Linked DNA regions of Homo sapiens. The protein of the gene in region 2 interacts with the protein of the main gene of each other region in a pairwise test. Each region holds a gene or a part of one and is shown on either strand. Other genes may lie near its edges. The genes, in order: DNAAF11 and SSX7.

Region 1 (3,922 bases), on a different chromosome or scaffold from region 2:
GGCAAAAGGGGCTTTACAGGTGTGATTAGGTTAAGGATCTTGAATGATCAGGATGATTCTTATAAGGACCACAGAGGTCCTTATAAGTAAAAGAGAAAGACATGAGTGTCAGAGTTAGGGAGAGAGGTAAAGTTGGCACACTGATGTCTTTGGAGATGGAGGAAGAGGCCATGAGCCTAAAAATGCAGGTATCCTCTAGAAGCTGAAAGGGGCAAAGTAAGGGATTCTCTCCTAGAGCCTGAAGAAAGAATAACCCTGCCAACACCTTCATTTTAGCCCAGTGAAACCATTTCAGGCTTTTGATCTCCAGAATCATAAGGTGATACATTTGCATTGTTTTAAGTCACTAAGTTTGTCTCAATTTGTTACAGCAGCAATAAGAAACATAAAAAAGGAAAAAAAAATACACACAAAGATTTAGTCAAATATAAATTAAAAAATTATTAGAATCAGCTGAATTATAAGTCAAAATTATGTAGAGATTTGGAAAAAAGATAATGCCACATATGCTCTGGTCATAAGGACTCATATGGTTGCTATAGATGGGCTGCAGATTTGGTTCTGAGCTTCTTGGCAGCCAAAGCGAAATAGAAAAACATAACTAGTTACACAATTTTCATGGTCTTTAAGGAAAAAATAAAGTTTGTAGCTTTCCTCTAACATGCAGCTCTAAAACACATTTCTAGCACAGAGTTTCATAATGGAGATATTGAGAGATGTCAAGCATTGTTTCTGTAGAAATATGGCCATACAGTCACAGGTTTCATAAGGCTGTTTCTTGTAGTATCCTTCAATAAAGGTATCTTCATACCATTACTTATGAGACCATAATGATAAATTCAATGCAATAAAACCTATTATTTAAGGCATTAAGTAATTGTGGTCCACATACTTAATTTGATCTAATTTAATACAGGATTGGGATCAAATCAATTTGGAAATTTTTGGATAAATGAAATTTACTTATTTTGTAAGTATATATAAGTAAATACACTGATATAAATATATGAATCAACATAAAAGTAAATATATTTATATATAACTAATACTATATAAATAAAGCACTTTCATAAATTTCTGTTAAGTCATCCAGTTTGTGGCACTTTGTTATATTAATTTATATAGTATAATTTATATATAAATATATATTAACATAAATACATTATATATAACTGTATATTATAACAAGCTAGAAAACTCTAGATAATTTCTTTCAACTAGGATTTCTTCCCAACAGAACCCTGGGGAGCAAGGTGATCTTTTCTTCCTTGTAATTGAAGTACATTAATTGATTGATTGATTGATTGATTTCTGTCTTATAAATGATGTAAGTCTATTTTGATTTAATTAGAACTACATTCCTAAAAGGCTATGACAACTGAACCCTCTGTCACTTTACTGACAGGAGGCAAAAGACCTCATATTAATAACTGATGACAAATTTGGGACTGTACCCCAGCACCTATTCTAGGAACCTCACTTTTTTAGTGATTTCTGTTAGTCTTTGAAATTGGCCCACATTTCCTTCAATCCAAAATCATGTCTGAGTTTAGAAGGCCTAAGAATCAGAGATCCAGTTTTAAGCTGAGCGTTTCTTGATCTTTCTTCACCCAGGATTCCTGCAGCACAAAGGTGGAGTGTCCACACTTATTGATAATAACTGTGCAAGTGCTGAAGCAGAGAGAGGGACACTAAGATGTACTGAAGGCCTCACAGAACTCCCTTGAAGTAGGAATTATGATCCTACTATACATGAGTAAAATGAGGCACACAATTCACAGGCAGTGGAAGCAGGGGTCAGACCTTGGTTTGTCTGCTAACAAATCTGTTTCCCACTATACTGCAGGGCCCACCTACTTCTGGAGTGGCTCAGACACTGGGAAGAAAAACCTTGAAAAGGGCTGACTCTCCTCACACCTCTTCTATGTGACTATCTAAAATAACTACTCTGTTGTTTTGGGTTGAATTGACAAAAAAAGATGTTGAAGTCCTAATCCCCAGTAGCTCAAATCATGGACTTTTGGGAAATAGGGTTATTATAGATGTCCCCTGACAAAAAAAGATGTTGAAGTCCTAACCCCCAGTAGCTCAAATCAGGGACTTTCTGGAAACAGGGTCACTATGGATATAATTCACTGAGACTAAATTATCCTGGAGCAGGTGGGCCCCAAGCCAATATGACTGGTGTCTTTATAAAGAGTCTTGTGAAGAGGAAGGCAGAGACCCTCAGGGTAATGTGTCTACAAGCTCAAGAATGCCAAAGATTGGCCAGCAAATCAGCAGAAGCTAGGAGGGAGGGCATGAAGCAGATTCTCCCTCGCAGCCCCTGGAAGGAACCAGTCCCGTCAACATCTTGAACTTGAACGTCTGGCCTTCAGAACTACAAGATGATACATTTCTGTTGTCTAAGCCATCTAGTTTGCAGTACTTTGTTACAGCAGCCCTAGGAAAATAATACATTTATTAACACAATTCCTTTTAAGCAGCTCACAAGCTTTCAATGAAATGGTAATTAAGACTCTAAAGCATATCAACCTATTTTTACATAGTAGTAAACATATGAATACCATTTTTCAAAAAGGGGCTGTTTTCTATTGAAGCAGTTAATTTGGAGAAGTCTTTCTGAAAGGAAAGACTTGATCCAAAGCCTATAATTTAACCCGGAGAGAAGCAGTGAATGTGGGTATAGTGTGAATGGTGGAGGCATCAAGGTCCGACTCACATAGGTTCAGATCCCACCTGTGTCACTTGCCAGATATGTCAGCCTAAACAAGCAGTGTTCATTCCCTGAGCCCTGACTTCCTCATCTCTGAATGTACCTAATTGTCTCCCTGAATGGGTCTGGGAGGATCAAAAACACTGTGCCCAAAGTACCTGGCACAACCTCTGACCCTGTCTGCAGCAGCCATATGATGGCTCTCACACCTCTAGCCTGACCAGGCTCAGCTGCAGCACTGACACAGGCTCAGCTGCGGTGGCCATGAGGACTCCTGGACCCTTAGCCCTTCCAAGGGAACGGCTCACAGCATTACACTACAAGATCTAGTCCTATGATAGTCTGGGTCTCATCAGTTCATTTTCTAGGAAATCACTGTATAATAATGATCAGTTTAGGTTATGTATGAGACAATTTATCATTTATTCTATATTCAATTACTTGAATCACTCATTCTCTTAATCTGAGAAATTTTACATTAGAAGAAATGTGTTCCATTAATCCAGCAGTCAGCAGTCTCTTGACTGCAGAGAACACAGAAGTCTAAGAAACAAACGTCCTTTGAGAACTGAAAAAATGCCTATTGAACAGGCGATGTATCCATGCATTCTCTTTCCAGGAACATGGAGCCACATGCAGGCTGGGAACTCTTAGAATTACATGAAACGTAACATTGCTATCTTAATATTCTCTGTTGTATGATTTCTCAAGAAATAATATTTTTTCCTCAGTTCTAAAATTACTCGATTGGGGGGATATGGTATAAGAGTAACATACGCAGTAGTGGTTGTCAAATGAGGTTCCTGCACCAGCAGCAGAATTACCAGATTTTGTTAGAAATGTGAAATCTCAGGCCCCATGTCAGACCTGACCCAGAAACCCTGGGGGAGGAGCACAGCAGTCTGTGTTTTGAAAAGGCCTCCACGTGCTCTGATGCACACCAAAGACTGTGAACCTGCCGGGCACGGTGGCTCATGCCTGTAATCCCAGCACTTTGGGAGGCCGAGGCAGGTGGATCACCTGAGGTCAGGAGTTCAAGACCAGCCTGGCCAACATGGTGAAACCACATCTCTACTAAAAATACAAAAGTAGGCAGACATGGTGGCACATGCCTGTAATCCCAGCTACTTGGGAAGCTGAGGCAGGACAATCACTTGAACCTGGTAGGCAGAGTTTGCAGTGAGCCGAGATCGTGCCACTGCACTC
Region 2 (3,922 bases):
ACGGTCACAGACTTGTCTCCAAGGATGCTAGTTGATGACAGAGCGAGGATGGGAGGCTCTCAAGGATCCAGATCTCCCCCAAGACCCTGGTCCTTGTCTCCAGTATCTCTGTCCTCCCCTCCTCAGAAACTTGGCCACCCCACACTGTCCCCTGGGCCACTACTCTGCTCCCTCCAGGTCACCTCACCTTTTGGATCTTCTCTGGTATTTGAGCACCAGCCCTAGGTCTCCTTGCAAAGGCGTCGTCTCCGTTCATGGCACCAGGAGCAGTCTGACCTGCAAGAGAAATAGCCTGAGTCTTTCCAGCCACAGCAGCTTTGGTCTTGTGGAGGGAGAAATCAGTGAAGGCCGGCCACCCTCAGTCACCTGGAATCAGGTGCTTCATTTCTCCATCTGGGGCTTATCTGTCCCTGAGTAATGACATGGGGCGAAGTCAGATGAAAATAGGGAACCAGGGGTCTCTGGGAGAAGTATTGATTTGGGATGACAGGCTTCCTGTGGGCAAAGCAGCCTTGAGTCTTTGGGAGGGGGTTGGCTAATGTTGTTAGTAGTTTCCCTGGGGCTAGCCTTACTCTGAAAGATGTACAGACCCTTGTTGGGAAGGCAGAGATGTGACTGTGTAATTTTATTCAGTGGGGGCATGCTGACACCCCGACTCAATAAATAATGGAAGGGAAATGAGTCCCAGAGATAACATCGTCTCTCTGGTGATGGATCTGATCAGGCAGAGGGATAGGGGGTTCTGTTCTGTTGAAGAGAAATGAGCATGGCTAATATGAACGGATTTAGAGGCTATTACTGGGTGATTTGTAAATTATTAGAAGAAGAGAGCTAGAATTTCTGAGACTACAAGAGCCCGCCATCACTTAGAGAGAATGTAGGGAGTTTCAAGGTGCAGCAATCAGCCAGGCGCAGTGGCTCACGCCTGTAATCCCAGCACTTTGGGAGGCCAAGGAGGGCGGATCGCTTGAGCCCATGAGCTTGAGACCAGCCTGGCCAACATACCGAAACCATCTCTACTAAAACAACAACAACAACAAAACACACACACACACACACACATTAACAGAAGCGGAGTGGTGTGCACCTCTAGTCCCAAGGCCTACGCGAGAGGATCACTTGATCCCAGGAGGAAAGATTTGAGTGAGTTTTTTTTTTTTTTTTTTTTTGAGTCATGGTCTCTCTCTGCTGCCCAGGCTGGGATGCAGTGGTGTGATCATGGCTCACTGCAACCTCCGCCTCCTGGGTTCAAGTGATCCACCAGCTGTGGCCTCCAAAACTGCTGGAATTACAAGCGTGAGCCACCGTACCCGGCCCAAATTTGTTAAGTTACTAGAGTTCCCAGGAAAAATCCCATACCTGAAAAAGTTAGAAACTGACAGGAAGGATTTGAGATGGCGACCTGCCTCACATACACTCCTTATTAAAACTAGATAACAAATGCACCACAGAGGAGGGGAGGGGTAGTAAGAATGGAAAAAGAAAATCAGCGCATGCTTACTCTGATTTTGGAAGAATCAAAAGAGAAAATCAGACCGTGCGTACTCTGAGTATGGAAGAATCGAGAGAGAAAGTCAGAGCATGCATACTCTGAACTTAAAGTAGCCAATCCCAGGGGATGCTTTAGGCGGGAAAATCAGAGTCTCCACCCCCACTTTGAGAAGGTTCTGTCCCTGGAGCCTGGACTGATAGAAGCCACATCAGCTTCGCTTATCACGCTACTGTTCTGACTTCTGATTGGCCAGATGGAGTTCACTAACTGCCCTGATTGGTCCATCATCCCTGCATAGTGACATTGCACAATATTGTCTCCTCCTCCAGCAACACTTTGTTGCCACTGCGACAAAGTGGGTGGTCCTCAGGCGCCGTCAGGAGATTTTGAACTCTCTGAAGACCGTCCCTGGATCTTGGGTTAAAAATCTGTTTTCTAGTCTGAACAGCGAGAAGAAAAAAATAGTCGGATCTGTGATTTTTCTACTTGAAAGACACAATGTTTTCCAGACTAGCACATTTGCAGAGCTTTGCTGTACTTAGTAGTGGCTTTCATTCTTCAGTGGCTTCTATATCTGTTGCTACTGAAAAAACAGTCCAAGGCCCTCCAACCTCTGATTACATTTTTGAAAGGGAATCTAAGTGTGGTGTGCACAATTACCATCCTTTACCTGTAGCCCTGGAGAGAGGAAAATGTATTTACTTATGGGATGTGATTGTGGTATTGGTTACATCCGCCTTGGCCAATCTTCCCGCCTCGGTCTCGCGACTACAGGTGGGAACCACCCCACCCCCACTAATATTTTTTGTTTTTGGATTTTTTAAAAGAGACGGTTTCGCTATGTTGGCCAGGCTGGCCTCAACCTCCTGGGCTCAAGGGATCCTTCCACCACGGCCTCAGGACTACTGCCATTCTGCCCTGCTCATTTTTATTTTATTTTATTTTATTTTATTTTATTTATTTATTTATTTATTTATTTATTTATTTATTTATTTACTTATAGGAAAGACAGGCTTTCGCTACGTTGGCCAGGCTGGTATTGACCTCCTGGGCTCAAGCAGTCCTCCCACCTTGGCCTCGGAACTACAGGAGTGAGCCATCCCACCCACGCAATTTTTTTGTTGTTCTTGTTGTTAGTAGAAATGGGGTTTCGCTATGTTGGCCAGGCTGGCCTCTACCTCCCGGGCTCAAACAATCCTCCCGCCTCAGCCTGGTGACTACAGGCTCACACCACCCCACCACCACTAATATTTTTAATTTTTCTAGCAGAGACAGTTTTGCTATGTTGTCCTGGCTGGTCCCTACCTCCTGGGCTCAAGCGATCCTCCTGCTTCAGCCTTGGGACTACAGGCATGCACCGCCCTGCCTTTTGCTATTTTTCCCCGGCTGCTTTTGACTTTCTGGGCTCGCTCAATGATTTGAACCTGGGAAGCGGACGTTGCATTGAGCTGAGATCACACCACTGCACTCCAGCTTGGGCGACAGAGCAAGACTGTCAAATAAATAAATACATCCATACTTGAAAGAAAGAAGAAAGAAAAGAAAGGAAGGAAGGAAGGAAGGAAGGAAGGAAGGAAGGAAGGAAGGAAGGAAGGAACGAACGAACCAGCTGAAACTCTGTAAAAACAGTAAGCTTTGTGGTATATTAACTTACCCTCATCCCATCTCGTGCTCCCAGCTTGGTTCTGTTCATTGCTGCTGAAATACAGATAGGATTGGCCAGAACTGGTAGATGGCTGGCTGTTGATCATGAAAATGTCAGACCTGATATAGTCCTCCTCGGAAAGGCCTTTTCTGGGGGCTGATACTCTATGTCTGCAGTGCTGTGGGACGATGACATAATGCTGAGCATTAAGCCAGGCGACCATGGGTCCACATACGGTGGCAATCCACTAGGCTGCCGAGTGGCCATCGCAGCCCTTGAGGTTTTAGAAGAAGAAAACCTTGCTGAAAATACAGAAAACAATAGGTATTCTCTTGAGAAATGAACCCATGAAGCTACCTTCTGATGCTGTAACTGCTGTAAGAGGAAGAGAATTATTGTGTGTATGTGTGTATGTATGTATGTATTTAGAGTCAGAGGTTCACTCTGGTTGCCCAGTATGCAATGGTGCGATCTTGGCTCACTGCAACCTCTGCCTGCTGAGTTCTAGCGAATCTCCTTGCCTCGGCCTCCTGAGTAGCTGGGATTACAGGCATGTGCCACTATGCCCAGCTAATTTTCATATTTTTAGTAGAGACTAGGTTTCACCATGTTGGCCACGCTGGTCTTGAACTCCTGACCTCAGGTGATGCACCCACCTCGGCCTCCGAAAATGTTGGGATTACAGGCGTGAGCCACTGTGCCTGGGAGGAAAAGAATTATTAATTTCTATTGTTATTAAAGAAAGCAAAGATTGTGATGCTTGGAAGGTGTGTCTACGACTTCAA

What was found.
Region 1: the proteins of SSX7 (region 2) and DNAAF11 interact in binary tests that used the Homo sapiens proteins (3 or more experiments, as listed by UniProt).

Annotation. Positions count from the first base shown.
Region 1 is NC_000008.11:132,633,652-132,637,573, forward strand, and holds part of DNAAF11 (dynein axonemal assembly factor 11), read right to left. Parts: intron 1-3,922. UniProt on the Homo sapiens protein: Involved in dynein arm assembly, is important for expression and transporting outer dynein arm (ODA) proteins from the cytoplasm to the cilia. Acts as a crucial component in the formation and motility of spermatozoal flagella.
Region 2 is NC_000023.11:52,653,217-52,657,138, forward strand, and holds the start of SSX7 (protein SSX7), read right to left. Parts: upstream 1,685-3,922; 5' UTR 1,546-1,684; intron 277-1,545; 5' UTR 257-276; coding exon 188-256; intron 1-187.